Regions from separate parts of the Homo sapiens genome. Here regions 1 and 2 are each linked to region 3. The links come from fine-mapping of genetic effects on gene expression. A gene starts in region 3. Each other region holds a variant in brackets. All regions are shown on one strand. Distances are between the middles of the regions. Region 1 holds the start of CGREF1 (cell growth regulator with EF-hand domain 1). Region 2 overlaps MAPRE3 (microtubule associated protein RP/EB family member 3). Region 3 holds the start of MAPRE3 (microtubule associated protein RP/EB family member 3).

Region 1 (9,976 bases), 150 kb after region 3:
TTGCACCGAGCCCTGCAAATTATGCACCTGGTCCTGAGTCCTACCCCGTGAATGACTATCACTCTCCTCTTCTTGGTCCTATGTACCCCTCATATATTTAACTCTTCAGTATGTTTAATGGACAGAAAACAGAGCTTTGGAAACAGCCAGACCTACTTTTAAACCCAAGCTCCACCACTGAGTGTCCCTGTGACCTTGGGTAAATTAATTTTTCTCACTAAACTTCAGTTACCTTATCCACATACTGGAGATAATATTTACCTCACAGGGTTACAGTGAACATTAAATGAATAATGAATTACTTCTGGCACAAACTAATATACAAGCCTTTTAGTGTTATCCCTGTCTCTGGTATTTTCTCCACTTAAAGAACCCTCCACACCCACATCAGATAAATCATCCTTTGCTAGAATTCCACTGCTCTAGAACCTTCAGTGGCTCCCTATTTCGATTACAGTCCAGAATCTTCACCTGGGCATTCAAGGCCTTCTACAATCAGATATCAAGTTACTGTTGACTCATCTTCCAGTGCTGTATTATGATAGCACACTGCTTCAAACCAAGGAGTTATTGGAGTCTCCTAAAATACTTTCCACTTTCACTTTTCAGTGCTTTTGCCCAACCTGTTCCATCCTCAATCTGGAATGTCCTGGGCCCTCCTGACAACCTTAGCATTCGGTTATAGCCCACCTCAAAAATGCAAGTGATTGGGCTGAGTACAATGGCTCACGCCTGTAATCCCAGTACTTCGCAGGCCAAGGCAAAAGGATTGCTTGAAGCCAGGAGTTCGAGACCAGCCTGGGCAGCAAAATGAGACCCCCCCCATCTCTAAAAAAAACAAACAAAAATTGTTTTTAATTAGACAGCATGGTGGCTCAAATCTATGGTCCCAGCTACTTGAGAGGCTGATGCAGGAGGATCACTTCAGCCCAGGAGTTGAAGGCTGCAGTGAGCTATAATTACACCACTGCACTCCAGCCTGGATGACAGCAAGATGCCACCAAAAAAAAAAAAAAAAACAAAGGCCGGGCATGGTGGCTTACACCTGTAATCCCAGCACTTTAGGAGGCCAAGGTGGAAGGATCACCTGAGGTCAGGAGTTTGAGACCAGCCTGGCCAACATGGTGAAACCCCATCTCTACTAAAAATATAAAAATTAGCCAGGCACAGTGGCACGTGCCTGTAATCCCAGCTACTTCGGAGGCTGAGACACGAGAATTGCTTGAACCCAGGAGGCAGAGGTTGCAATGAGCCAAGATTGTGCCATTGCACTCCAGCTGGGGTCACAGAGCAAGACTGTCTCAAAAAAAGAGAGAGAAAAAAAAAAGTAAATGATGTGGACTTTCAGTATAATTTTTTTTTTTTTGAGATAGAGTCTCACTCTGCTGCCCAGGCTGGAGTGCAATGGCGCGATCTCAGCTCACCACAACCTCCACCTCCCGAGTTCAAGCGATTCTCCTGCCTCAGCCTCCCGAGTAGCTGGGATTACAGGCATGTGCCACCATGACCTGCTAATTTTGTATTTTTAGTAGAGATGGGGTTTCGGCATCTTGGCCAGGCTGGTCTTGAACTCCTGACCTCAGGTGATCTGCCCACCTTGGCCTCCCAAAGTGCTGGGATTACAGGGATGAGCCACCAGGCCAGGCCTATTCTCTCTCTCTCTCTCTCTCTCTCTCTCTCTCTCTCTCTCTCTCTCTCTCTCTTTTTTTGAGACAGAGTCTCGCTCTGTCACCCAGGCTGGAGTGCAGTGGCGCAAAATCTACTCACCATAGTCTCCACTTCCCAGGCTCAAGCGATTCTCCTGCCTCAGCCTCCCAAGTAGCTGGGATTACAGGTGTGCACCACTACACCTGGCTAATTTTTGTATTTTTAGTAGAGACGGGGTTTCACCACGTTGGACAGGCTGTTCTCGAACCCCTGATCAAGTGATCTACCCACCTTGGCCTCCCAAAGTGCTGGGATTACAGGCATGAGCCACTGCACCTGGCCAATATTCTAAGTAATGCTTCCAACTGTGACATTTTAGTGCAAGTAACCCACCTCAGTGGTTTAAGGAAAGGCTAAGACACCTCATGTAATGTGTAATGAGGTTAGTGCGATGTGTTGACACTTAGACATTTCTAAACATTAACAAAAGCTTTTGTGAGAGAAATAAAATAGTTATTGAACCACTGCCTGTCCAATAAAAATGTCCCTAACCATTTTCTATAACTATAATGTGCATGAACATAATTACCCTAATAAACACATGAAAGCCACCATAACTGTTAACAGTTGCCATGTAATTTAATAAAGTTATGTCACACACGTGCACTCACACATTCACAATGACCCTCCGGCCCCAGTGTTCTTCAAGCCTTTGCACCAGTGCATGGGAGGAGAGCACGCTCTACAGGTTAGACTTCTGATCAAATCCTGCCTCTGATACTACTCACTGTGGGACCTAGGCAGGTGTCTTAACCTCTCTGAGCCCTGGGATCTGAATTTTTTTTTTTTTTTTTTTTTGAGGCGGAGTCTCGCTCTGTCGCCCAGGCTGGAGTGCAATGGCACGATCTCGGCTCACAGCAAGCTCCGCCTCCCGGGTTCACGCCATTCTCCATTCTCCTGCCTCAGCCTCCCGAGTATCTGGGACTACAGGCGCCTGCCACCACGCCTGGCTAAATTTTTTTTGTATTTTTAGCAGAGACGGGGTTTCACCGTGTTAACCAGGATGGTATCGATTTCCTGACTTCGTGTTCCGCCCGTCTCGGCCTCCCAAAGTGCTGGGATTACAGGCGTGAGCCACTGCTCCTGGTCGGGATCTGCATTTTAAAAATGAGGATAACGGTATCTGTCTCCTAAAGGTTTGGGGAGGCTGCAATGAGAAAACTTAGGGTAGGTGCCTGGCACCAAGCAGGTGCTGCTTGGGTATTTCAGAGCCTCTGGGCTGTGGCAGGGGCCTTGCAGGGTTATCCTGGGTAACTTCCCATCCAAAGCAAAAATTTCTTCCTCAGCAACCCTGTCAAATGGCCTCTGCTTGAATCATTCCAGGACAGGAACCTAGCACCTCACAGGCCGGCAGTTCCATCTCCTGTAGAGTCGAACTGTTGGGAAGCTAAAATTTTGAGTAGAATCCTCTCCCTTAATTCTTAATTTATCCCTCTGGTGCCCTTGTGCCTCCCAGCACCCATCCCCCAAGAAAGGAGACAGCGGCTACAGGGCTAGAGGAGCCCACACCCGGGAGCTGGTCCCTCGGCCACCTGCAAGCGGACGACAGCCTCGGGCCCTCCCCAGCGCTCCATTTCTTCCCCGTCGGATGAGGGGGAAAGCTCCCGCCAGCTGCCCCTCCCCCAGGACTGCTGGAACACGGAATGCGGGGCTGGGGGAAGCGCCTGGGGAACTGCGAAGCCCCAAATTCACACCAAGGAGCCTCAGGCTCGCTCTCCAGTCCCTTCCTCCACCTGCCCTCAGGGTACACAGGGGCAAGGGCCACTGCTCCCGCCGCGTCTGAGCCGCAGGGGATGCAGAGGGACTGCGCTCTCGGGATCTGGACCAGAGGCTGGAGGCCACCTACCCCGCGCGGCCCTGGCTGGCTGACGGCGATGGGCTCGGGTCTCCGGCCGGCCGGGGCGGGGTGTCACCCACCTGCTGCGGCGCCGCGCGGCTCTGGGGGTCCAGCTCCGTGGGCGCTCCTGGCTGCTGCGCCGCCCGCGCCTCGCCTCCCGCCGCCAGCCTCCCCCGGGCCGCTCCACGTGGCCGCTCCACGTCGCCCTCCCGGCTGGAGCCGCCGCCCTGGCCGGGCAGAGTCCGGAGCCAGTGCCAGCCGCCGCCCCGCCCGCCGGACCTGGCCCTTCGCAGCTCCACCAGCGCCCCCGCTGCGCCCGCGGCCGGAGGGGCTGCGCGCGCCCGTGTGAGTGTGCGCGTGTGTGCGTGCGTGAGTGCGCATGTGCGCGTGTGCGAGTCCGCGTGTGCTCGTGAGTGCGCTCGTGTGCTTGTGCGGGTGTGCACATGCGTGTGACATTGTGAGCGTGAGTGTGAGCATGTGTAAGGATGCACGTGTGTGAGCGTGCATGTGTGCGCGGATGTGTGCGTGTGCCTGTATGCACACATGTGAGTACAGAGAGACCAAGAGACAGTGAGGCCAGTGTGCATCAGAAGTATGTTTAACTGTGCTCATGCTTTGGTTGCCACTTTCTCTGCCTGAGGGACCCAGATGTATGTGACAAAATGGAACCTAACTTACTGTTAGCATGTGCGGTTGTGACTGGCATGTGTGGCTCTGTGTATGAGGAATTTGTGACACGGTAGGGGGTATTTTGTGTGACTGTGCATCCGTGTGATAGTGTGGGCTTCAGGGGCCGGGCGTGGTGGCTCACACCTGTAATCCCACCACTTTGGGAGGCCAAGGCGGGTGGATCACGAGGTCAGGAGATGGAGACCATCCTGGTTAACACAGTGAAACCCCGTCTCTACTGAAAATACAAAAACATTAGCC[G/A]GGCATGGTGACGGGCGCCTGTAGTGTCAGCTACTCGGGAGGCTGAGGCAGGAGGATGGCATGAACCTGGGTGGTGGAGCTTGCAGTGAGCCGAGATCACGCCACTGCACTCCAGCCTGGGTGACAAAGCAAGACTGAGACTCCGTCTCAATAAATAAATAAATAAATAAAAAATAAATGATAGTGTGGGCTTCAGGGTATGGCCAATGTGTGACTGACTGCCCAGGGGTGTGGCGGTGCAGAGTGTTAGAGGCATATGTATTGGGGTGTCAGGGTGAACTCTTCCTGAGTTGTTTGTGACACTCCATCACAGCGACACTGTCATCACAGCGACAAGCCCACTCTCATCCTGTCCTCCTCCCAGTGATGAACACTGCTTGTCACTGCCTTTTTAGATCACGGATTCTGCTGGTTTCGGCAATACCTCTCCTACCTCTGGTCATTTCAAAAAGGTCTCCATTTTCTTCACCGTCAGAGTTCCTCAGGGCCCTCTCCTCACTTTCCATCTGCTCATGTGCTCATCTGCTCACCTAGCTCCCATCACTGTTATGCATTGACTCGTGTCCTTCACAAAGTTATATGTTGAAGTCTTAACCTCCAATACCTCAGACTGTGACCTTATTTGGAAATAGGGTCATTGCAGATGTAATCCATTAAGATGAGGTCATACTGGAGTAGGGTGGGCCCCTAATCAATATGACTGGTGTTCATATCAAAAGAGGAAATGTGGACACAGACACACACATAGGAAGAACATTGCTATGGCCTGAATATCCCACCAAATTCATGTGCTGAAACTTAGTCCCCATTGTGGTGATATTAAGAGGAGGAAGCCAGGCACAGTGGCTCACACCTGTAATCCCAGCACTTTGGGAGGCCGAAGTGTGAGGATCTCTTGAGGCCAGGAGTTTTCGACCAGTCTGGGCAACATAGTGAGACCGTGTCTCTACAATAAATAAATAAATAAAAATTAGGCATGGTGGTGCACGCCTGTAGTCCCAGCTATTTGGGAGGCTGAGGCAGGCAGATCCCTTGAGTCCAGGAATTTGAGGTTACAGTGAGCTGTGATCCTGCCACTGCACTCCAACCTTGGTGACAGAGCGACATCCTGCCTCTGAAAAAAACCAAAAAGGAGTAGGGCCTTTTGGGACATGATGAAACCATGAGGGCTCTCCCCTCATGAAGGGATTAATGACCTTATGAAAGAGGTTTCTGAGAGAGTTCACCCCTCTTGCTCTCTTGCCTTTCTGTCCCTTCCATCACATGAGGAAACCCAGACGCACCATCTCTGAGGAATGGACCTTCACAGACACCGAACCTGCCAGTGCCTGGATCTTGGACTTCCCAGTCTCCAGAACTGTGAGGAATAAATTTCTGTTGTTTGTAAATTACTCAGTCTGTGGGATTTTGTTATAGCAGCACAAACTCACTAAGATGTTTGTGAAGATGAAGACAGAGATCAGGGTGATGCTTCTACCAGTCAGGGAGTGCCAAAGATTTCCAGCAAAATGCCAGAAGCCAGGGGAGAGGCATGGAATAGATTATTCCTCACGGTTCCCAGAATGAACCCACCCTACTGATATTTCAGTCTTGACTTCTAGTCTCCAGAAGTGTGAGACAATAAATCTCTGTTGTTTAAGACAGTCCCCAACCTTTTTGGCACCAGGGACCAGTTTCAGAGAAGACAATCTTTTTTTTTTTTTCTTTTTTTTTTCTTTTTTTGTATTTTTTTAGTAGGGACGAGGTTTCACCATGTTGGCCAGCCTGGTCTCGAACTCCTGACCTCAGGTGATCCGCCTGCCTTGAACTCTCAAAGCATTGGGCGTTACAGGCGTGAGCCACGTGCCCAGCCTCAGAGAAGACAATCTTTCCACAGATCAGAAGGGTTGGGGGTGAGGGTGATGGTTTTGGGATGAAACTTCCACCTCAGATCAACAGGCATTAGATTCTAATAAGGAGCACGCAACCTAGATCCTTCTTGTGTGCAGTTCACATAGGGTTTGCGCTCCTATGAGAATCTAATTCCACTGCTGATCTCAGGCAGTAATGCTTGCTCATCCTGCTCACCTTCTGCTATGCCACCTGGTTCCTACCAGGTCATGGACCAGTACCAATTTGCAGCCCAGGGGGTTGGGGACCCCTGGTTTAAGACACCCAGTTTGTAGTGCTTTCTTACAGCAAACTGCCAACTAATACACCACCTAAATGCTGATGATTGCCAATTCTCCACCTCCAATCTCTAAGCCCCAGGCCACTTCAGGCATTGAATATCCTACTAATTTGTGCCTGAGTTTTAATTTATAAAGGTGGCTGAGTGAGGACATGAAGAGGTCACTGCTATTGAAAGAAAAGCTTAATGTTATTTGCAGTTCCCCTAGAAACAAAAGGCACGGTCACAGGGGGAAGTGCCAGTGTCACTCAGGAGGCAGAAAGAAGCGAAGGGAAGGTACAGGCCTTTATTGGGGTTTACTTCTCCCAGTAAGGCAGGAGAAGCAGTTTGGGACTGGCTAGTTTGAATAATTCCAGAGTGCTCTGGGGCACAGGGACAGGTCCTGGTTACCTGGTCCTGGGTTGATTTAGGGCAGGGGAGATACTGGCTTGGAATGTGAAAGTTAGAGAAAGGAAGTGCTCAGAGTGTGAGCTCTGGATTGTAGGGGAGATGTAAACAACCTTGGCCATTAGGTTGGCCCTGTGATTTATGGATGCCAAATAGACAAATACAGAACCTAAGGAAACACAGTTAAAACACCTACCAGCACCCCAACTTCTACATGTCTGTGTCTAAATGCATCATCTTCCTCTTCAAACCTTCCTCTCCTCTGTTTCCCTGTCCCAGGGATGGACACTTTATATCTGTGCAGTCAGAAACCTGGAGGTCATCCATGTTCCTCCTTCTTCCCCTGCCTCCAATCTACTACCAGGTCCTATCAATTCTGCCACTGATCTTGAAGATCTTCACTCCTCTCCTGGGTATCCTCCAGTCCGGGCATCTTTTGAGCCTGGCGTTCTGTTAGCAGCCTCCCAGTGGCCTCTCTGCTTCTACTTTCCTCCTCCTCCAATCTATTCTCCAAGCAACTGAATGATTCTCCTAAAACATAACTCATGTCACCCTTCCCTTCTTAAAACCCCTGGATGGCTTTCCTCTGACCCTAGGATAAACTGCAGCAATTATGTGGTCCTTGACCACCCACATGCTCCAGCCACACCAACTTTCTTTGTTCCCTTAAGACATCCTTCACCTCCAGGCTTTTGCCTTTGCTGCCCCCTCTGCTAGAACACCCTCGCGTGAAGTCCGGGCACCTCCGCAGTGCTCCCATGGCAGCTGGTACTTCTCTTGTGTGGACCATGTTAAGCCCTGATGACTTGTGGACCTCCTAGAAGCTTTACGGTGTATTGATACCTAGGCTCCTCTCCAGACTAACTGTATCGGGGGTAGGGCCTGGGCACTGGTAGTTTTAAAAATCCTAGATGATTCCGATCTGCAGTCAAGGTTGAAAGCCACTACTCTTAGTAGACGACCTCCTATATTTCAATGAAGACACGGACAGTAACATGGGGGGTCTGTATCAAGTGCCTGGTACAGGGCGGGTGGTGAGCAAATTATCTACTGTACGAGGACTGTGTGGCAGGGACTGTATGAGACAATGCAGAGTGACACTGCAGGAAGGTGCATGTGTTGCAATGCCACCACTGAGCAGCTGAAAGCTTTGTGACAGTGTGGGGTGTCACAGTCGGACAGTGACTGGTGAGGGTCACTGTGAATGGCTGTAGTGTGTGACAGAGCAGAATGTCACTGCAGGAGTAGCTGTGTCCTGTGCGTGACTGACTGCGAGCGCCTAAGGGACTCTGGCCAGGCTGCTGGACTCGGGGCGTCGCCGGGGAAGAGTTTAAGGGAGCTGGAGATGCCCCGCACCAAGATGGCAGCTGGGGGAGGCCGCTTGTCTCGGGCTGCACAGCCAAGAACCGCGGAGGGGAAGAAGGCAGGGGAGGGCGGGAGGCCATTCGCAGGTCACTCGGGTTAGATCCGCGCGAGGCACTAGGCGACCAGCCACCCAGCCCCGCGACCAACTAGCGCCGCCTCTCGCCGCCCATCCCGGGGCACCGGCGGTGGGCGGGGCCAGCAGCGCAAACTGCCTGCAGCGGGGACCGGACCTGCACAGGCCGCCTATGGCGGGCGGCGGGTGGGACCGCGAGTTACAGCCGGCCAACTGGGGCCAGCCAGGAGCCTGAGGGTCGGAAGCCCCCAACACAAGATGCTGAGCTCCTTCCTGAGCCCCCAGAATGGCACCTGGGCAGACACCTTCTCTCTGCTCTTGGCTCTTGCCGTTGCCCTCTACTTGGGCTACTACTGGGCATGTGTGCTTCAGGTGGGTGCGGGTCCACCGCTCTGGCCAGCGGGTTTGGGTGTAGGGGGCAGCTTCCAGACACGGGCTTGGGCCCTTGGTGGGAACTGGGATGGTTGGGCTTCCCCACAGGTGAAATTTGCTACCACCGAATGGAGAGTCGGCTCTGCCTCTCTAGTGCCTCTGCATCCCATGTGATCCCCATGCCAGCTGGGCCTTTTGGGTACCGGAGGGTGCTGCTCCCTATAATGTGGACAAGCATTTGGGGAAAGGTGGGGTGGAAGGCATCCTGAGGTATCAGAGATGTGCACACTTTGCGTTCCTTTTTAGGTGGTTTAGCTGAGTCTTTCAGCTGCACTGAAGGAAGGAACCAGAGGTCTGTGGGTCATGGCTAACTCCCAATACCACCCACCCCCCAAATAGCTTAGTAGGACCTCCCTTCCCTTAAGGGCTGGCTGAGGTCAGAACTGGCCTAGCTCAGAACTGATGGATGACCCCAACTGTCCTTGCTCATTCAGCCGTTTTATGTTCCAGGCTCTCCATATAGTGAGTGTGATGAGAAAGTTTGAAGAGGTTGATTTTGATGAATTTGGAGACTTTTCTCACTGAAATTTAGATATATACATAATTTACATATCCAGGAAAAGCCAAATCTCTTCATCTTCATTAAACTCTGTTCTAGGTAGCTGAGTCTAACAAGACACCTACTGGTTCGAGTCCTTTAAAAAGGTCTATAGGAGACTTTAGTGTTACCTAGACTTTTCCATATTTTCAGAGCTTTCTACATTAGCATATATTGTTTACTAAATGTCTTCCTTAGGGCCGGGTGTGGTGGCTCACGCCTGTAATCCCAACACTTTGGGAGGCAGAGGCGGGAGGATCGCCTGAGGTCGGGAGTTCGAGAGCAGCCTGACCAACATGAAGAAACCCCATCTCTACTAAAAATACAAAAATTAGCCAGGCATGGTGGCACATGCCTATAATCCCAGCTACTCGGGAGCCTGAGGCAGGAGAATCACTTGAACCTGGGAGGCGGAGGTTGCAATGAGCCTCGTGCCATTGCACTCCAGCCTGAGCAACAAGAGTGAAACTCCGTCTCAAAAAAAAAAAAAAAAGTCTTCCTTAATAAAACAGTTAAAAACTCCAAGCCTCACAATAC
Region 2 (9,700 bases), 56 kb after region 3:
ACTGTCTGGAGCTGAAGTCAAGAAATGGAAGCAGGGAAAGAGAAGAGCAGGAGAGGCACCATGAAGGACTGCAGGGAAAGGAGGAGCGGGGAGCTGAGAGCCAGGATGGCAGCAGAGCCACAGGTCTGACCACACCTCTCTGGGTCCAGCTCTCAGCTCTTCTGGTGGTGCAACCTTGGGCAAGTCACTATACTGCCCTAGGCCTCAGTTTTCTCATCCATAAGATGGAGATAGTATCACCAACTAACTAGAGTTCCTGTTGGGATTGCCCTACCTACATGCAGTGTTTGGTGTGGTGCTGGTTCATAATACGCATCAATAAATAGTCATTGCTTTTATTCTTGGAAAGCTGGGGGGATTCTGGCCATGTCTATCCTGAAAGTAGGACTGGTCCCTGGCCCAGAACAAGGAGAGAGAAGAGGAGACGGGGTTTGGGGAAGTGAGAGAGAGCAGCTCACAGAAGGAGAGCAGCAAGACCCCTCAGCCAGCCATCCTTCTCCACAGGGGCAGCCTACTGCCAGTTCATGGACATGCTCTTCCCCGGCTGTGTGCACTTGAGGAAAGTGAAGTTCCAGGCCAAACTAGAGCACGAATACATCCACAACTTCAAGGTGCTGCAAGCAGCTTTCAAGAAGATGGGTGTTGACAAAGTAGGTGCCTGCGCTCTGGGGGGCCCTGAGGAGCAGTGTGACCCTGGGGAAGAAGAGGACCCACCAGCCCAGGCAACTGGGGCTGCTGGGGTCATTCCGGTGCTCGTGCCTCCCTCCACCTCCCGACTCTCCAGAGGGAATTTTCCCCCTGCTCAAGGCACAATGGAAAAGCCCACAACACTTGCCATGCCATCATGACAACATTCCTTTCCCTTCCTCCTCTCTGGACCCTGCCCACCCCAACACTGAGCTCTGTGCACCGCTCCTGTGAAGTTCCACCTCTCTCTGTCTCTGTAGGGCCCAAGAAAGTGTCTCTGCTCACTCTACTGCCTCGGTGGCTGCAGACCCCCAGCCCACACGCAGGCAGTAGAGCCAAGGGACGCCTCCCCACACAGTTCTTCCACACGGTGCCTGTAGAGAAGGGATGCCTCTGGATCTGACACTAGGGCCTACCAGCCTACCTGTCTGCTCTGGTGCCGTGGGAGGGGGGCAAGTGGAGAAGGTGGAGGACGCTGCAGCCCAGGGGCTGGCTTTCCTGAGAGCAGTGGCCCTCAGCAGAGGAAGGCGGTCCTACAGCAGCAGGTGGCTAAAGTACTCTGCTTATGTGGTCTATTTCAGATCATTCCTGTAGAGAAATTAGTGAAAGGAAAATTCCAAGATAATTTTGAGTTTATTCAGTGGTTTAAGAAATTCTTTGACGCAAACTATGATGGAAAGGATTACAACCCTCTGCTGGCGCGGCAGGGCCAGGACGTAGCGCCACCTCCTAACCCAGGTGATCAGATCTTCAACAAATCCAAGAAACTCATTGGCACAGCAGGTAACGTGCCCGAGCCGGGGGAGGGAGCGTGGGGGGCCGGGCCGGCAGGCCTCTATAGCCAGGAGTGCCCCCTGGGCCACGGCCCGGCCCTGCCAGCCTGGAGGAGACTTGTTATCACGGAGTTCGGATGACGCCGCCTGCTGGCCAGTTAGACCGGGGGAGTGAAAGTAGTGGGTGAGAGAGCTCCACAAATTGGTCTAAGAGGAGAGCCACCAGCACCAGCCATGGTGGCAACTGGGGTAGGAGGCCCAAGGCACTTTGTTTCATAGCACGAGCTAACTTGTTTGCCTCAAGATGATGGGGCAGCAAGGTGGCTTGGTTTCTCCATCCAGGTGCATCCAGACCAAGAGCCTGGTGCCAGCACCACAGCCCCTTCTTGCCCCCTGCCCCCTGGATGGCCAGGGGCAGGAGTTGCCAAGCTGGATCACACCTTTCCCCACTCTAAAGGCCCAATAGTCCTAAGTCCTCAAAAGATGAGTCTCTAGAAACGAGGCTTTGTCTGGGTCCTGGAGGGGAAGGGAGAAAAGCAATAGGGCCTTTGGGAAGCAGCAGCGTTGGGAGGGGAAGGGAGAGGAGCAGCCCCAGCCCGCGTCGGACCCCGTCATAGCAGAGCCACCTCCTCTGTCTGCACTGCTGTTCTGCCTGGGCCTGCCCCACTCGCCCGCCTGCTTGCTTTGCACTAGAAGCAGCCCGCTCTGTCTAGGGAGGTGCAGTCGCTAGTGAGCAAGTCGCCACGGCATGCTGGCTGCGCTGGGGAGGAGCTGGGGTCCCTGATTTGGCCACCACTGTGCAGATACCTGGTCCAGCCCAGCAGAGGGCAAAAGAGCCCATCCTGACACAGGGCCCCTGGAGGGGCAGCCACCCAGGGACAATGGCTTTGGGCTGGGGCTTCTGTTAGGAAAGACCCTGTGCCAGCTGCCTTTCCTCTAGCTATGAGTACGAGAGGGTCCCGCACCCTTCCAACTCTACTTCCCCAAATTTGCGTCCTAATTTCTCTCCTCTATCCCTCAGGCCAGCTCTCTCCCTGCCCCAACACCTCACACCTTGTTTAGTTCCCTATAGTTTCTGCTCTCCCGGGCTCGCCAAAGGGCTGCCCAGCTGCTGGAGTGTCCATGTGGCCAAGACTCGGGGCCTAGCTGTAGATGCCCTTCCTGGGGTGGGGGCAGGGGGGTGAGAGTGCCTGCCTGTCGCATGGGCCTGCCCCCGCAGTCCTCACACCAGGCTGTCTCCTGCCACGTGCGCTGTGGGCTCACGTGGACTTACCTGACTCTTTTCCTCTGGGCAGTTCCACAGAGGACGTCCCCCACAGGCCCAAAAAACATGCAGACCTCTGGCCGGCTGAGCAATGTGGCCCCCCCCTGCATTCTCCGGAAGAATCCTCCATCAGCCCGAAATGGCGGCCATGAGACTGATGCCCAAATTCTTGAACTCAACCAACAGGTGAGTGGGATGGGTAAGGGTAGCTGAGATAGCCCTGTCACCAAAGCCAGGCCCTTGGGGTGTCTGCAGGGACGAGAGGAGGGCAGGCAGGGGA[A/G]CCTGAGGTGGGGACCTCTGGCTTGAACATCACTTTGTCCCCAAGCAGCTGGTGGACTTGAAGCTGACAGTGGATGGGCTGGAGAAGGAACGTGACTTCTACTTCAGCAAACTTCGTGACATCGAGCTCATCTGCCAGGAGCATGAAAGTGAAAACAGCCCTGTTATCTCAGGCATCATTGGCATCCTCTATGCCACAGAGGTGAGCACTCCCAGGCCCATTGGGCCCTCCCCAGTCTGGCCTGGCCCTAAGACCAGAAGCGCGATAGGGCCAGAAGGGACCGTGGAGAACATTTACTGATGAGAGAGAGGTGAAGTCACTAGCCCAGGGTCACCCATTAGCAGGGCTCCTGGACTCCTGACCCCTTGCTCTTCAGCTACTTACAGAACCTGAGAAGCCCTGCCTGGCCTGCCTGGCCCACCACTTTCCTCTCTCTCCCACCCTCCAGGAAGGATTCGCACCCCCTGAGGACGATGAGATTGAAGAGCATCAACAAGAAGACCAGGACGAGTACTGAGGGCGGCCGCAGCCCTGGCTGACTGCACAGCTTCCCCGTGCCTCCCTCCCTGCTCCACTCCCACATTATAGTCCTTTCCTAACACGGTCGGCCGGGTGCTTTGTGTCAGTGCTGCAGCACTGGGGAGCCAGGCGAGGGGGGCTTGGGGGCATGGGGCCGGAAAGCAGGCAGAAGCCCGTCCTGGGTGGTGCTGGCCCAGTTGGTGGGACCCCTGTCCACACCCACCCTATTTATTTCCGTTGTCTCTCTGCTGTGTCGCCCAACACTTCCCAGGGTGCTGCTGCCACCCGCCCCAGCCAGCCACCTGCTCCTGACAGCCAGCAGCTGTGTATTTGACAAAGTCATTGGTATATTTTTACTTACTGGATTCTCCTTGCACTTTACCTGTTCTTTTCCAGAGCTGACAGCACGGGCTCCGGCGCAGTGTGCCTGGCTTGGCTTCCCTTCCCCATGGCTGGGGGCTGGGGTAGGACTCACCCATTCTAATTTATTTTGTCTTTTGGCTTCTCAGTAGCTAAGGGGAAGGCTGATGTCAGGAGAGGGAGAGGGGGCTGAGGAGGTAGTGCTGTAGGCCCAGGGGGTCAGGGAAAGGGAGGGGGGCATGTGAGGGATGGAAATGACCTCCTGGCACCAGGCTCACCCACCCAAGGCCCCCTGCCCCAGCACTGAATCCCAGCGCTGCCCTGAGGCCCCCAGCCACTCCCTCCAGCAGCCTGGTTCACCACACAAACTCTGCCTGGACCCCATTGTCTGTCTGCTTCCCACCTGCCCTCCCCACCCCCTGCCCCTCGGGCACCAGCCTGCATATGTGTTCACTTTTATTTAAATAAACTTGTGTGGTAAAAGTACATGCCATGTGTCCCTCAACTGAGCCACAGTCCAGGTCCAGTGCTTTCCACCTCCCATGCACCGCTCTCTCCGGAGGTGATAGCGGCAGCACAGCCTCACTGTCACCCTCCCACAGGCCTGGAAACCACCACCAGCTCTGGGCTCAGAGCCCAGCTCCAGCCTAGCCCCAATGCCCAACACTGGTGGTAGGGCTCTGAGGGCAGGTAGGGGCCCCAACCCCCCGTCACTGAGGAGGAACTAGGTCTGGGCCCGTGGCCATGACAAGGGACAGCCGGTGAAGCGGCTGTGGGGCACCGTGGTGGCCTGGCCAAGAGGTGCTTCGTTTCAGTCTCCTTTGGGTCAGGGGGACTGCATGTCATCCCCCACCTGTTGTCAAAGCTCATACAACTCATCATAGTGATTCAGCTGGGGACAAGGGCTCACGTGACAGAGAGAGCTGGGATGGCCACAAAGAGCAAGGAGTTCTGAGTGCTGAAGCCCGGGACAGCAACATCCAAGGGGTTCCTTCTGTAGAGCAGGCTCCAGTGGGAACAGGGAATCAGGAACCCTTCCACATCACCTGCACAGCCCCAGTCCTGGCATGTGCCTAACAAAAGGCCATACTAACCGATGTCCCAGAAGCCCAGCAGAGACCAAGAGTGCAGAAATGAATGTGAGAGCCTTGGGGTCATCTAGACCAGCCCCCGGTTTACTGATGAGGGGTCAGAGGCCCACGTGCATGACTCAATCACCGTGGCTGAAACCTGGACTAGAACTCACACTTCTTGACTTGAGGTTCAGGGCTCATCCCCAAAGACCACTGAGGTTCCCCCAGCTGCAGGACAGCGCTGGTTTCCTCACCACCCTGAGTATGGTCAACATGCAGATGGGGCCGTGTCTCTTCTGTGGCCCCACCCCATGGCCCCTTTTGAGACCACCACCATTTCTCTCATGACACCAGGTTCAAGCCTTAAATAAGCAATTCATATCTGTTTATTCCTCAATCACCTCCACCACCCCTTTTGACTCCCCCCCCCCATACATAGACACTTCTGCCTTATTCTATCTCTGTTCTCCTCCAGCAAGTTCCTTGCCTGCTTTTACTTATCGTGATGATTTTAATTCCCTTGCCTAATTTTTAAAGGCTTTTCCCCATGATTACAGGTAGATACCATGAAAGGATAGGCCAGGCCGAGACCTCACCCTGAAGGTAAAGTGGGTGTGGGAGGCAGAACAGTGCCTCCCCCAATGTCCACATCACAATCCCCAGAAGCTGTGAATATGTGGGTTACATGGCAAAAGGGAATTAAGCTGCCTGTGGGCCAGGTGCGGTGGCTCACGCCTGTAATCCCAGCACTTTTGGAGGCCAAAGCGGGAGGATCACTTGAGCCCAGGAGTTCAAGACTTCCCTGAGCAACATAGGGAAACACCATCTCTACAAAAAATAAAATTTGAAGGGCGTTGTGGCACGTGCCTGTAGTCCCAGCTACTCAGGAGGCTGAAGCAGAAGGATCACTTGAGCCCAGTTGTTGTTAAGGCTGCAGTGAGCCATGATTGCTCCACTGTACCCCAGCCTGGGCAACAGACTGAAACCCTGTCTCAAAAAAAAAAAAAAAAGAAAAAAAAGTTGCAGATGGAATTCAGGAAGTTAATCTGCTGACCTTAAAATAGGGAGAGTGTCCTGGTTTATCCAGGTGGGTCCAATGTCATCGCAAACGTTTATAAGAGTGGAAGCAGGAGGCAGAAAGGGTCAGAGTGGGCAGGGTGTGGTGGCTCATGTCTGTAATCCCACCATTTTGGGAGGCCAAGGCAGGAGGATCACTTGAGCGCAGGAGTTGGAGACTAGCCTGGACAACAGCGAGACCCCATCTTTACAAAAAATAGAAAAATTAGCCGAGCATGGTACTACATGCCTGTAGTCCCAGCTACTTGGGAGGCTGAGATGGAAGGATCATTTGAGCCCTGGAGGTCAAGGGTGCAGTGAGCCATAATCATGTCACTGCACTTCAGCCTGGGCAACAGAGCAAGATCCTGTCTCAGAAAAATAAAAGAAGAGGTCAAAGTGAAACAATGTGAGAGTGACTCACCCACTGTTGTTGGCTTTGAAGACAGAAGGGAGCCATGAACTCAGGAATGCAGGTGGCCTCTAGAAGCTGGGCAAGGCAAGGAAATGGATGCTCCCCCAAAGCCTCCAGAAAGGAACCCAGCCCTGCTGACACCTCGATTCTAGCCCAGGGAGACCTGAGTTAGACTCCTGCCCTCCAGAACTGGAAGATAACGCCCTTGTTTTAAGCCACTAAGTTTGTGGCAATTTGTTTTAGCAGCAATAGAAACGTAGTACAGTGGGTAAAACAGTGCTTCGGTGAGCTCACCCTTCTGCTTGCTCCCACACTAGACACCCATGTCCTCCTTGACCCAACATCTTTTGGGTCTTCAAACCCCACGGCGGGGCCTACCCAAGCCCACCTCCGTGGCTAGTGTCTAAGGCTGCTCTTCAAACACCCAGAACTTAAGGATGTAAAGCCACTCCCTTCTCCCCACCTCTTCCTGGTACCTCATACTAAGTGCTTCTTTCCTCTGGAACACTAAGATGGTGAACTGTAATTTTCTGTTTATACATTTGTCCCCCACACAGACTTCAAGTTCCTTACAAGCAAGTGAGCTATATCTTCCAGCTCCACCTAGCACAGGGCCTGACACAGAGAAGGTGCTTAGAAAAGGTTGCTGGATAAGTAAATGCATGATTTATATGTCCTAGATGCCAAGTTAGAACTGGTAACTTACTAGACTATTCCAATGAAAGATAGAGTCCCTCTCCCACCCTTCTGTGTGTCTCCACCATGGGGCAGCCCCCTCATTTGCCTCAATGGAAAGCCAGTTCTGTTTCTCTTCCAAAAACATGGTCTCTTCTGTGATCATACATGTGACACAGGAGGGGTCAAACAAAGAGAAGATATTGTTGTTGGTCTCCTGAGTACACCTAAACCAATGATCTGCAAAATGAATTGATTAATGATCAGTTCAAATATGGTCCTTGGCAAAGGCACTGTATCTCAGAGCTACCGGATGCAAAGTCAGCCATGGTCAGGCCTAAGGGGGCTGGAGGACAGGTAGAAGGAGGCAGCAAGATATGCTCATCTCCCACCCCCTGCCTTCCCCTACCAACACTTCACACAGCCACATTTACCCTTCCAAAAGAGTGGATTATGCCACCCTCTCACTGGTCTCCCAGGGCCTGAAGGATAAAGTCCAGATTTGGCAGGCAAGTTCCTTGGCATATGGGCTCAGATCCCTTTCCAAACTCATAAGAGGCTATTGTTGCATTGCTATAAAGAAACATCTAGACTGGGTAATTTATAAGAAAAGAAGTTTAATTGGCTCACAGTTCTGCAGACTGTATAGGAAGCATAATGCTGACATCTGCTTCTAGGGAAGCCTCAGGAAGCTTACAATCATGGCGGAAGGCAAAGGGGGAGCAGGCACATCACATGGTAAAAGCAGGAGCGAGCAAGCGAGCGAGAGAGAGAGGTGGTGGGGAGGTGCCACACACTTTTAAATGACCAGATCTCATGAGAACTGGGATCCACCATGAGGGATCCACCACCATGATCCAAACACTTCCCACCAGGCCCAACTGCCAGCGCTGGGGATTACAATTCAACATGAGACTTGGGCAGGGACAAAAATCCAAACTATATCAAACCTCATCACCTCCAAAGTCCCATCAAGCACTGTCCCATTGAACTGCTTCCAGTTTACCACCCTCTAGGCCTTTGTTTTACATCAACAGATCCACACAACTGGCATTTTCTCTCCACCCACCCTAACCCTCAGCCAGTGAACATTCAATTTTGTTTTTTGTTGTTGTTGTTGTTTTGGGTTTTTTGAGACGGAGTTTAGCTCTTGTTGCCCAGGTTGGAGTGCAGTGGCACAATCTCGGCTCACTGCAACCTCCGCCTCCAAGGTTCAAGCGATTCTCCTGCCTCAGCCTCCCAAGTAGCTGAGATTATAGGCCTGCGCCATCATACCTGGCTACTTTTTTGTATTTAGTAGAGATGGGGTTTCACCATGTTGGCCTGACTGGTTTCGAACTCCTGACCTCAGGTGATACCCACCTCGGCCTCCCGAAGTGCTGGGATTACAGGCGTGAGCCACGGCGCCCGGGGAACCAATGAAAATGCTATTTCTCAGAACCTATCTCAGCTGCCGTCTCCTTCGGGAAGCTAAACTCCTTCCTAAGGAATGCATCGCTCCCTCAGCTGTTCATCCTGTAGGAATTTGGACTCTCTTAGTTCTTATCATAATACCTCAGTATGGCAGGTAGGAATCTCATCCTCACACACAGTTGTACATGAAATAGCACATTTCCTTAATTGTGATAAGTCACTTTGATTTTATCTTCCCTCATTCTCCTCTGCTGGCATGCTTCAAGGTTCTGAAGGCTCCCAGGATACTAACACCCTCCACGTGGATGTCTGAGCAGGAACCTGTCTGCAGATGCCTCAAGTCTGGGGCTCTCCATCGCTTCCCTGACACATCTGGAACTTGGGATTGACTCTTATGGTGGGAGGCAGAGCCTGTTCTTTCTCATTGCCTGGAAGGGGAAACCCGGCCCTGGCTGTCCCAGACCCCCAGACTTTTCTCAGCCTCCCATGAGAAGAACTCAGAGGCCAGGAGCGGTGGCTCACTCCTGTAATCCCAGCACTTTGGGAGGCTGAAGAGGGTGGATCACTGAGCCCAGGAGTTTGAGATCAGCCTGGGCAACACAGCAAAACCCAGTCTCTACAAAAAATACCAAAGATTAGCCGGGGGTGGTGGTGGGTCAGGTGATCCGTGGTGGGGGATCACCTGAGCCCTAGAAGTTGAGGCTGCAGTGAGTCGTGATCGCGCCACTGAACTCCAGCCTGGGCGACAAAGCAAGATCCTGTCTCAAAAAAAAAAAAAAAAATTATTCTCCATTCTCCACCTCCTACCCCAGCTCCCCAACACTCTGCCCTTTCCTCAAGCCCCCATCCTCTTCCTTGTTCTTTGGCAATAGATTTGTATAGCCCATTAAACCCGAGGTTTAATCACTAGCAACAGTAAAGCCAGCACTTTCCTAGAAGGAAGGAAGCATTTAATCTTCAATCTCTCCCTAGATATGAGGAGCACTACTTCCCTTCCATCCTTCCAGCTCTACGAGAAAGGAAAGAAAAACAGTGGCCGGGCGCCGTGGCTCACGCCTGTAATCCCAGCACTTTGGGAGGCTGAGGGGTGGGGGTGGGGTGGGTCACTTTAGGTCAGGAGTTCGAGACCAGCCTAGCCAACATGGCGAAACCCCGTCTCTACTAAAAATACAAAAATTAGCTGGG
Region 3 (9,976 bases):
AAAATTAGCTGGCATGTGCCACATGCCTATGGTCTCAGCTATGTAGGAGGCTGAGGTGGGAGGATCACTGGAGCTCAGGAAGTCTAGGCTACAGTGAGCTATGATCACACCACTGCACTCCAGCCTGGGTGACAGAGCAAGACCCTGTCTCAAAGACAACAACAACAAGTGGAATTAGGGTCAGGCCCTGGGCTTACATCTGTAATCCCAACACTTTGGGAGGCCAAGGCTGGAGGATTGCTTGAGCCCAGGAGTTTGAGACCAGGCTGGGCAGCATAGCGAGACCTCATCTCTACAAAAAAAAAGAATCTAAAAGAAAATTAGCCAGGTGTGGTGGCACACCCCTGTGGTCCCAGCTACTTGGGAAGCTGAGGTGGGAGGATTGTTTGAGCCCAGCATGTCAAGGCTGTAGGTGAGCCGTGATCACGCCACTGTACTCCAGCTTGGGCAACAGAGCAAGACCCTGTCTTAAACAAACAAACAAGCTAAAGAAGTGGAATTAACAGTATTAGAAAACTGTCCTGGGGCTGGGTGTGGTGGGTGGCTCAAGCCATTAATCCCAGCACTTTGGGAGGCCGAGGCAGGTGGATCACATGAAGTCAGGAGTTTGAGACCAGCCTGGCCAACATGGCGAAATCCTGTCTCTACTAAAAATACAAAAATTAGCCAGGTGTGGTGGTGCATGCCTGTAGTTCCAGCTACTCGGGAGGCTGAGGCGTGAGAATCGTTTGAACTTGGGAGGTGGAAGTTGCAGTGAGCTGAGATCGTGCCACTGCACTCCAGCCTGGGTGACAGAGCAAGACTCTGGCCCAAAATAATAATAACAATAACAATAATAATAATTTGCAAATCATATATTATCTGATAAGGGATTTATATCCAGAATATATAGAGAAATCCTAAAACTCAACAACAATAAACAAACGGTCCGATTCAAAAATGGACAAAGGACTTGACTAGACATTCGTGCAAAGAAATTACACAAATGATCTATAAGCACTAAGACAACATAAAAAGTCGTCCAGCAAGCACCCTGCTGTTTAAGTTTCAGCCACCTTCTGACTCACACCTTGAGCTAGAACCATCCAACTGCGGGCTTTCTGAATTCCCATCCCACAGAAATAGAGATAACGAAATGGTTGTTGCTTTAAACCACTGAATTGGAGTGATTCATTTTGTAGCAATAGTTAATGGCACATAGTAAAATGTTAATATGTAGAGAATCTGGGTGAAGGGTATATAGGAACTCTTTGTAGAATGGTCCTCTACCTTGTGTATGACAAAGGGGTGGGGTTACAAGGATCATAGCTTCTTCTCAGGATTACTCAGGACAGTCTACACCACCCAAGTCTATACCTGTAACAATGAAGCTGAGCTGGAACTTCAGAATGGGAAAGCAAGATAAACTGAGCGTGCGACTTCCCTATTGCCTTGGTGACACCCAGATACCCTGCAGATGCAGTTAGAAACAGCTCCAGTTGTCCAACTCTGTGGCTAGAAAAAAGTGTAGCCTGGGTTTTTACTCTCCTAACCCCTTGATTTGTTTTGGGAATTATTGTCTACAAAGAGCTCTCTCCTTTCTGATAATTGCTTTAGGTGGAAGAAGAGAGGATATGCTGTGTCCCCTCTCTTTTCTTACTTACTCTATTTGTAACTTTCTTCTTTTTTCCCCAAGAAAATGGGCTTAGTTGGGGTGCTTTGGCACCAATAGTCCTGCGGCGGAATCTGTGGGAGCTAGACAGGGAGATTTGGAAGAGAATGCTAGGTTGTGAGCTCTTGCTTTTGAGTTGTTTGAAGAGAATGCTGCATCTCTGGCATGTCAACAAGCCCAGCAGAATCCAGTAACGTTCACCAAGAAGGCTTGATTAGAGCTGGTTAGGGGATGATCAGGATGGTTAGGTGTGAAGAGCTTACGCTGATTATGGAGGGTATGGGAGTCACGGGGTTGGTACCCAGTGAGGAAATTTACCTTAGTAGAAACATTTGGGATAGTGTAGAAGAGAGAAGAGCTAGAGGCGAGGATTCAGGAAATAGAGAATGCCAGAGTCTCAATTAACAGGATGGAAAGCTAAGGAGATGAAAGACTTATAATAGTAGCATAGTACTAAAAGACAAACTATGTGTAAAGGTATTAGAAATGGGGACTGGGACTCTGAGGCAGTTAGGCCAGAGAAAAGAAGAAGGAAAAGATTTGTCTTCATTTGATTCAATTACATAAGCATTTCTCAGAATCTGCTATGTGTCACATGCTGTGGTGGATGCTGAGGGAGCTGATGAAAAAGACAGAATTCCTGCCCACCAGGGTCACATAGTCTGGAGACACAGACACGTAAACAAATGACGATAGTGTAAGGTGTGTGTAAGAAAGGAGGAATGTACAGGGTTGGTACAAAGGTGACCTCAAGGCATCCATGGGAATCAGGGCTGAGGGAGGAAGAGCCAGAAGACATCAGCACAAAGAGAACCAAGATGCTGAAGTCACAGGGGGAAAGAACATACTGGAGCCCCGGGCAGAGCAGTGCTGGACAAGGACAGCAAGTGTGGAGAGGAAAGGGAGATCCAGAAGAACCGAGGAGATCCATAACAGCATGCTTGGAGGAGGAAATTCGGGAAAACGAATGGACATGTCAGAGGGAGCTAGTTATGAGGAAGTGGACTGCAAACCAGATAGTGAGCAAGATGAAGAAATGAGGTGTTTATCCTTGCAATGGGAGAGAGACAATAAGGCTGACAAAAACTCAAGTGGTCTGTGGATAGACGATTTCGTTAGCTCGATTTAAGGGTAAAGGGCACACTCTCTGGTAGGAGATGAAAGGGGATGTTTAAAACAGGTAGAAAAAAATTGGGCCGGGCGCGGTGTCTCACGCCTGTAATCCCACCACTTTGGGAAGCCGAGGCAGGTGGATCACCTGAGGTTAGGAGTTCGAGACCAGCCTGGCCGACATGATGAAACCCCTGTCTCTACTAATAATACAAAAACTTTGCCAGGCATTGTGGCGCACGCCTGTAATCCCAGCTACTCGGGAGGCTGAGGCAGGAGAATTGCTTGAACCCAGGAGGCAGAGGTTGCAGTGAGCCAAGATCGCGCCAGTGCACTCTAGCCTGGGCGACAAGAGTGAAACTCCGTCCCAAAAAAAAAGAAAAAAAAATGAATTTGGGAATTAGAGAAAAAGACTGTGATTGGAACCCACACACCAAGAGAGGAGATAAAACCCAGCCTTAGCTCTTCCATGTCGCTGAAAGAGAAGAAAACGTCTCTTTTTCCTTTTCCGTAGCCATAAAAGATGAAAATCCGTCATCCAGCTACTGAAATCAGGTGCACACGGTTGTTCCTCCTGTGATGAGACAGGGCGGAGGGATTGTTACCCTGTTGCCAGGGAAAAAGGAAGGGGCTGTTCCCAGTTGCTATGGTGACGAGGTAGGCGCGTTCCCTCGGTACCGCCGCACACGTCTGAAGCGGTCTCTTCTCCTCGTTGCTACGGCAACGCAGTGGGCCTGTTCCTGTCGCCCCCCGCCTCCCGCCGCAATCGCTAAGGCAAGGTGGAGGTAGGGGCTGTCCTCCCGCGGCTCAGTTGCCTTGGAGACGGCGGGTGCCCTGGCCCCGCCCCGCTCGGACTGACAGCGGCGGCCGCATCGCGCCTGCGCAGTGCCCTCGTCCCCCGCAGTCTCTGTGCGTTGAAGCCGGAGACCGCGGCGGCCTCAGCGAGGACCCTCCGCCCCGGAGCCGCCGGCCGGAGCCGCAGCCTCTGCCGCAGCGCCCCCGCCACCTGTCCCCTCCCCCTCCGCCTCCGCCGGAGCCGCCTCGTGCACTGTGAGTCCGGGCCGAGGCGACGGACGCCGTGGGGCTGAGTCAGCGGGAGGCCAGGGCCCGGGCTGGGGGAGGGGAACCGGGCTCCCCCCGCCCCTGCCTCCCCACCCGCACTCCCGCATCCCGACCGCGCCTTCCCCGCGCCGGTCAACCCCCTCCATCCCTGTCGCCGGGTTCCCTCCGGCCTTGGCGGCCCGGCCTCCCCAGCCACTCCCCCTCCCCTTCCCTCCCCTCCCCTTCCCTCCGTCTCTCCGGGTCCACCTTGAGGCTCCTTCCCCACTAGACGTGGCCACCGCACCTCTGCCCTGGGCTGATATTTTCTCCAAACTACCTCCCGTCCGCCCTTATCCCTTCTCCCTCCTCCTCACTCCTCCTAGGCCTGACATCTCCCGGCCTCTCTGGATCTCCCCAGTGATGTGCCAGAAAAAGAGTGACAGGAGAGCGAGGGGAGACTTGGGGGAGGGGGAACATCGGGCCAGGCCCAGCCTGGGGGCCTCGGGTTTCTTCCCCACACGCTCCTGCCTGGCTGGTTTGGGGAAGCAGGTCTGGACAGTTCTCACTGGCTGCTCAGAGCTTGCAGGGCTTTCCGAATAGATTTGGCTGGGAAGGGTTCAGCCCCATCGTGATCATCTAGCGTTTAATGAACGCGGCTAGTGCCTGGTGGCCTTCTAGTGGGCTGAGCTACTGCCCGGCCGGTGTTGCGGAGCGGGGAGTAGAAGTAGTGGAGGGAAGGGAGAAGAGGTTGCGTTTGGGAGCTCCAAGTTCCTGCGCTTCCGGTGTGGTGTTGTGAATAAGCATCTTGCGGAACTCTTTAAAATGCTTTTTTTTTTTTTTAAATCGCACTACAACCCTGGTATAATGTGAGGTTTGGAAAAAGGCCTGATACCATCCATAGGAAGTGCTTACTGTTTATATATGAAGGGGCTGTGGCAGGACTTGATCTTGGATTCCTGTAAATTAACTAATTGGATAGTAGTGAGTTTTTAACATAACGTGTGCAGAGTTGAGAGGAAGGAGAAAAATCGAAGCTTCTCCATGGTGTAGGTGTGAGGCCTGTACACTGTGCCTCCTCCAGCTGTGTGTCTTTGTGGGGCTGTCACCAGATAGGGGTTCTAGCATATTTGGACAATTCCCTGGGTTATGTTTGCTACCCCTCCACCTGCCCATCTTGCAGTCCCTGTTCTTGGAATAGAAGAGGGTCCCAAACAGTTTTCTTTTTCCAGAAGAACTGAGTTGAAGTCAGAGTTAGTGCCCAGAGCCAGAAACTCTTAATAAACATGTCTCAACTTGAGGGCCCCTAACTACTATATGACCTCATTGTCAGCTTCTTTTTTATTTGGCTTCCAAATTTCAGTGTGCTTTTAGAAAGCACGTGTAAATATAAGCCAGATCTACCGCACAAGAGGCTTTGGGATTTTTACTCCAGATGGTAAAAGGAACGCATGGTCCATTTCTAAAAATCATGGTGAAGGAGCCACTCATTTGGAGTTTCCGGGGTTGCAAACAATGAGAAATAACTATTTCACTCTTTACTTTGCTCAATCATGGCCTATTGGCAGCCTCCTCATAGCCACTCCCTGCCCCCATGCCCATCAGATTAGTTTACAGTAGCCAAGACGGCTGTCGCCCTAGTTTTAAACATAGAGATGAAGTTCAGGAAAACTATAGCCCCCATCCAGCAGGGCAGTTTCTTCTGTTTCGAATGCCAGACTGGGGTTTGGTGGGATGCACCTGCCTGTGGTGCAGTGGGAACTGTGGGGCCTGAGAGTGGCATTCCTTCTGTGTGGTCCTGTGTCACATAGCTCACCAAAATACCCGAGCAGGGCAGGAGCAGACAGCTGTACTGGAGAGCTGCTCCTCCTGGGCTGAGTGTATTTTGGGAATCAGCGATATTACTGGGGTGGAGGGTTGTGAATTAAGGAGGAAGAAAATGTGTCAAGGCTAGATAGATCAGGAGGGTGTAAGTAAAATGTTCCTTTCCAGTTTGCTATGGGATAGTACATTTTCAGAGGATCAGAGTAGTTTTTATATGGATTAATTTGCCTTTGAAATCCATACCAGTGTTTTATGAGATAATGATGGAATGCCTTTTAAACTGCTACTATGAGGAAACAGGACTAATACTTGTCTTATACATTGCCTATCCAGCTGTTGCTGAATGTAATTGTTAAGATCAAGGAGAGGGACATGATTTGAACCAAGTTAGACCTAAATCTATGTAATGGTATTGAGGTTTTGTAGGACTGTATTCTTGATTCTAAGACACACCAGCAATTTACCAATAGCTTTTAGGTAAAATAATCTAATGCTACCAGATCAAAATATATATGCTGATTCCAAGGTGCATCCTCATTTTAGAAACATTAAAACCCTCGGGAAATGGCAAGACTTGAGGGAGGGATTTGTGAATCTTGGAACTGAGAAAGAATGCTATTGATAGTATTCCTGTGTGATGATGCCGTTTCTGACCTACCGTCCTGAGAGTGCATGCATTGTGAAGCTGAGTTTCTTCTAGTCCTTCCTGCACGCCAGCACACATTGTGGGGTTGTATTTGTAAGATGACTGGCTGGAGTTAGGCATAGTAGGAGGCTATTGAACGGAGGAAAGTTCCCATATGAGAATCCAACCCAGGGTCTTAATGTGGTACTCTCCAGAAACTGAGCCAACTAACTGGCAGCAAACGTCTTATGAGCTATTCCTGAATTTAGCCGAGTAACATTTGTCAGAAGCCGAACAGAAAATATAGTTTTTTTTTTTTTTTTTTTGAGACGGAGTCTCGCTCTGTCGCCCAGGCCGGACTGCGGACTGCAGTGGCGCAATCTCGGCTCACTGCAAGCTCCGCTTCCCGGGGTTCACGCCATTCTCCTGCCTCAGCCTCCCGAGTAGCTGGGACTACAGGCGCCCGCCACCGCGCCCGGCTAATTTTTTGTATTTTTAGTAGAGACGGGGTTTCACCTTGTTAGCCAGGATGGTCTCCATCTCCTGACCTCATGATCCACCCGCCTCGGCCTCCCAAAGTGCTGGGACTACAGGCGTGAGCCACCGCGCCTGGCCAGAAAATATAGTTTTTTAAAACAGAATGCATCTGCCCTGATTTGCTTACAGATACATTTGTAAAGGTCCCAAGGCACATGTCTCCCTCGCTTAGGATGTTAGCACTGGAGGTGACCCCAGATGGTATAGTTTAATGCCCTCATTTCTAAAGTTGACACAAGACACCAAGAGTTAAATGACTTACCTAAGGTCACCCAACCCATGCAGAACGTATGTAAAAACACTTTGTAAACTGTGTACACTAGGCAGATGAATGTTGGTGGTTATTAGTGGCTGAGTCAGGATTAGATCTCCAGATTTCCAGACTAGAGTTATTCTTCAACACCACATTGCCTCATCCCTCATAATGTTCCAAAGGGTTTTAATAAAAATAATTTAGTAGTCCGTAATTAGCCCTGTAGGCAAGGGCTTGTTTTGTCATCTGAGATGCTGCACAGCCAGGCAAAATTTTGTGTCAAACTGTCTAACTAAATATTTATTCTTGCCACTTTAAAAATAATATTTTTTATCACACATTCTGACTTCAGGAAGGTCTTTCTTTTTTTAATTTGCATCAACTAACAGAAAAGCAAATGTGAAGTTGGGTATTTGAAGTCTTTTCTACTTCTTATCTGTGAGACTGCCGCATTCCAGAAAGCAAGGTGGAGAGGCAGATGGGGCTGAGAGGAGGAGCGTGCACATTGGGCAGCTGCGGGCTTATCTTCCACCTCTCAGAATGGAACCTTTTGTAGTTTCTGGGAGCCATAAGGACTTCTAAACCCTCTCCTTGGGAAGCGCGGAGGCAGCCTGACCTCTGGAAGCAGGCAGACTTGAGTTCAGATCCCCATCCAGCCATCTCCTGGCTGTGTGGCCTTGGGTGAGTTATGTTACCTCTGAATGCCAGTTTCCTCATTTATAACCCTGGAATAATAACTATCTGTTTTACAGGGTTGTTGTGAAGATTAAATGAAAGGGAGTATGTAGAGTGCTTGCTTCATAAGAAATAGCAATGATTATTTTATATTGACTAAAGCATAAAATAGCAAATAATGGTTTCAAAATTGTTTCGTGATTTAGGTCCATCTTGGACTCTCAGTTTTGTAGCCCCCATCTCTCAGCACCCCTCTCGGTATTTGACACGAACAGAGAAAAGGTTTGTACCGGGAAGACCCGGCACTTGCATTATTATTTCAACTGCCAAAACCGGAGTATATGAAATGTATCTTTGCTCCATGTATTCAGCCAACCTGAAAGACTGGCAGGACAGGAGCATTTGACTTTAGGAGGCACAGATGTGGTGTGCTTGGGTGTGTGGTGGGGGTGGCTAGTTCTCCAGCAGGGAGGCCAGTCTGGGGAGTGGTCTTCATTTGAAATAGAAAAGCTGCTGAGCTCTTGCTTGTGAGGGACACACATGTGGTCTTTATTGACTTCCTCAACTGGTAGAGGCATAGATTTCATCGGTGACTTTGCTAAAATCAGCTTCTGCATCCGTGAGATCCAGGGGGCAAGGGAAAGGAGCTATTCATCTTAAGAGGGAAACCTTGCCAGTGAGCAGAGGTAAAGGGAGGTCATTTTGGATGGAGAGAATTACAGACTGGCTCAAGGCAGAAACTACTGAGTAATTAAAGAACCAGGGCAAGCTGTTCAGGTGCAAGAGCAAAAGTGAATTTAAATTCCTAGATAAATTTCAGTAGGGAAGGAAATACCCATGTATAGACATCTAAAGATTGAAAAGAAACGCAATAATGTTTACCTCTGGGAGGTGGGATTTGGGTGTGGGGAAGGGAAAAGGAGACTCAAAGGGGAACTTTTACTTTATATGTTTTTGTATTTGACTTGTTATAAGAAGCATGTATGCTTTAGTCATTTAATGAAGACCAAATAGAATGGGTAGTGATTGTTGTTCAGTAAATACATTTTGGTACAAAAGAAGCAGCTGCCTTTACTTGGAGCCTCCCATGCCTGGGGCAAATAGGGTTTGACAGCTTCAAGCAGGCCCAGGCAGTTTGCACCAAATCAAGCTCTTAAGTGAGGGCAGGACCCTCCAAAGTGGCTGCTTCCCGGTCAGCCCAGGGTACTTAACTGACCACCTACCCCATCAACTCTTCCTAGTCTTTTCACTCCCCTCTTGAGAATAGTCCCCTCCATCTGTTGACCAGCTAAAATAATCATAATTATTCTAATAAGCTAATTTTCAGCTATTGATGAAAATGGCATCTGACTATATGACCTTCATGAAAAATTCCTGCCTCTTAGTTAATGTCAAGAGGGCTTGAAGTTTAAAGGGACCCAAGCTGAAATGCTGGCACACTGTGTAGCTAAGTTCTAGGTCAGACCTGGCTGGTACAGCACATCTTTCACATAATGACTGATTAACTGCTTCTGGTAGGAATTACTGGTAAACTCTGATAAAATCCTTAAGGATTGTTCAGCTTTTAATTTTGTCGTAAGTTGGCCAGCTGTATTTTCTAGCCAGATGTCATGTTTATTATAGAAAGATGACACACCTATCATTTGGACATGTGCTTTGGGTTGCTTACCCAGGAGTTAGGATGGGTTATGCTGAGTAATTCACATTCCATCACCCAGTCTTCCCTTTGGCCAAGAGTACAATTTCGTGTGACAGTTAGCCAAGTTTCGTGAAGCATGCTGTGGCCACGGATGGTTTTTCTTGTGCACAGAGTTGACTGGCCAATACTAGCATAAGCCTAGATCTTGCACTCACTAGCACCATGCCCTACCAGCTTTGCTAAACTGACCAGATGTTGTTAGTCAACTTTTTAGCATAACGTCAGTGTTTTAGGCTCTGGATGCTTCATTTGCCTCAAGTAAATAAGGACTTGTCCTATCTAAAATGCTTTAACTCCATGCAAAATGATTTTTTCCCTGAAACTATTTCCTAGATATAGGAGATACATACCACTTGTGTGATACATTTAAAATAACTGAGCAAGAAGCATGGCTTCAAATCTGCCTTGTAGCTTGACTATATATAAAAAAGCTTAAAAGGATGTATATCCTTAGACCAGAAAGTGCCATTCTAGCAATATTTAGAAAATCAGAGGTGTGTACAGAAATAATTGTAAAAGATTTATTAATGCAACATTACTAGTAATATCAAACATTGAAAACAA

Evidence for each region.
Region 1: its variant is fine-mapped to the expression of MAPRE3 in whole blood (INTERVAL, PIP 0.94).
Region 2: its variant is fine-mapped to the expression of MAPRE3 in whole blood (TOPMed, PIP above 0.99).

Annotation. Positions count from the first base shown.
Region 1 is chr2:27,115,222-27,125,197 of GRCh38, forward strand. CGREF1 (cell growth regulator with EF-hand domain 1) reads right to left here and starts at 3,907. Exons shown (of 6, transcript NM_006569.6): 1 at 3,625-3,907. ABHD1 (abhydrolase domain containing 1) reads left to right here and starts at 8,594. Exons shown (of 9, transcript NM_032604.4): 1 at 8,594-8,841. The coding sequence starts at 8,728. LOC124907744 (a long non-coding RNA gene) reads left to right here. Exons shown (of 2, transcript XR_007086252.1): 2 at 1-2,264. RefSeq lists enhancers at 2,839-3,339, 3,340-3,840 and silencers at 8,439-8,518, 8,539-8,678. The variant G/A (reference allele first, on the strand shown) is at 4,475.
Region 2 is chr2:27,022,828-27,032,527 of GRCh38, forward strand. It overlaps MAPRE3 (microtubule associated protein RP/EB family member 3), which reads left to right. Exons shown (of 7, transcript NM_012326.4): 3 at 505-650; 4 at 1,269-1,470; 5 at 2,756-2,910; 6 at 3,053-3,205; 7 at 3,453-4,392. The coding sequence ends at 3,521. Among named protein-coding and RNA genes, the nearest start is that of TMEM214, 5.3 kb to the right of the region's middle. RefSeq lists an enhancer at 1,366-2,156. The variant A/G (reference allele first, on the strand shown) is at 3,005.
Region 3 is chr2:26,966,992-26,976,967 of GRCh38, forward strand. It overlaps MAPRE3 (microtubule associated protein RP/EB family member 3), which reads left to right and starts at 3,646. Exons shown (of 7, transcript NM_012326.4): 1 at 3,646-3,811. RefSeq lists a silencer at 3,531-3,860.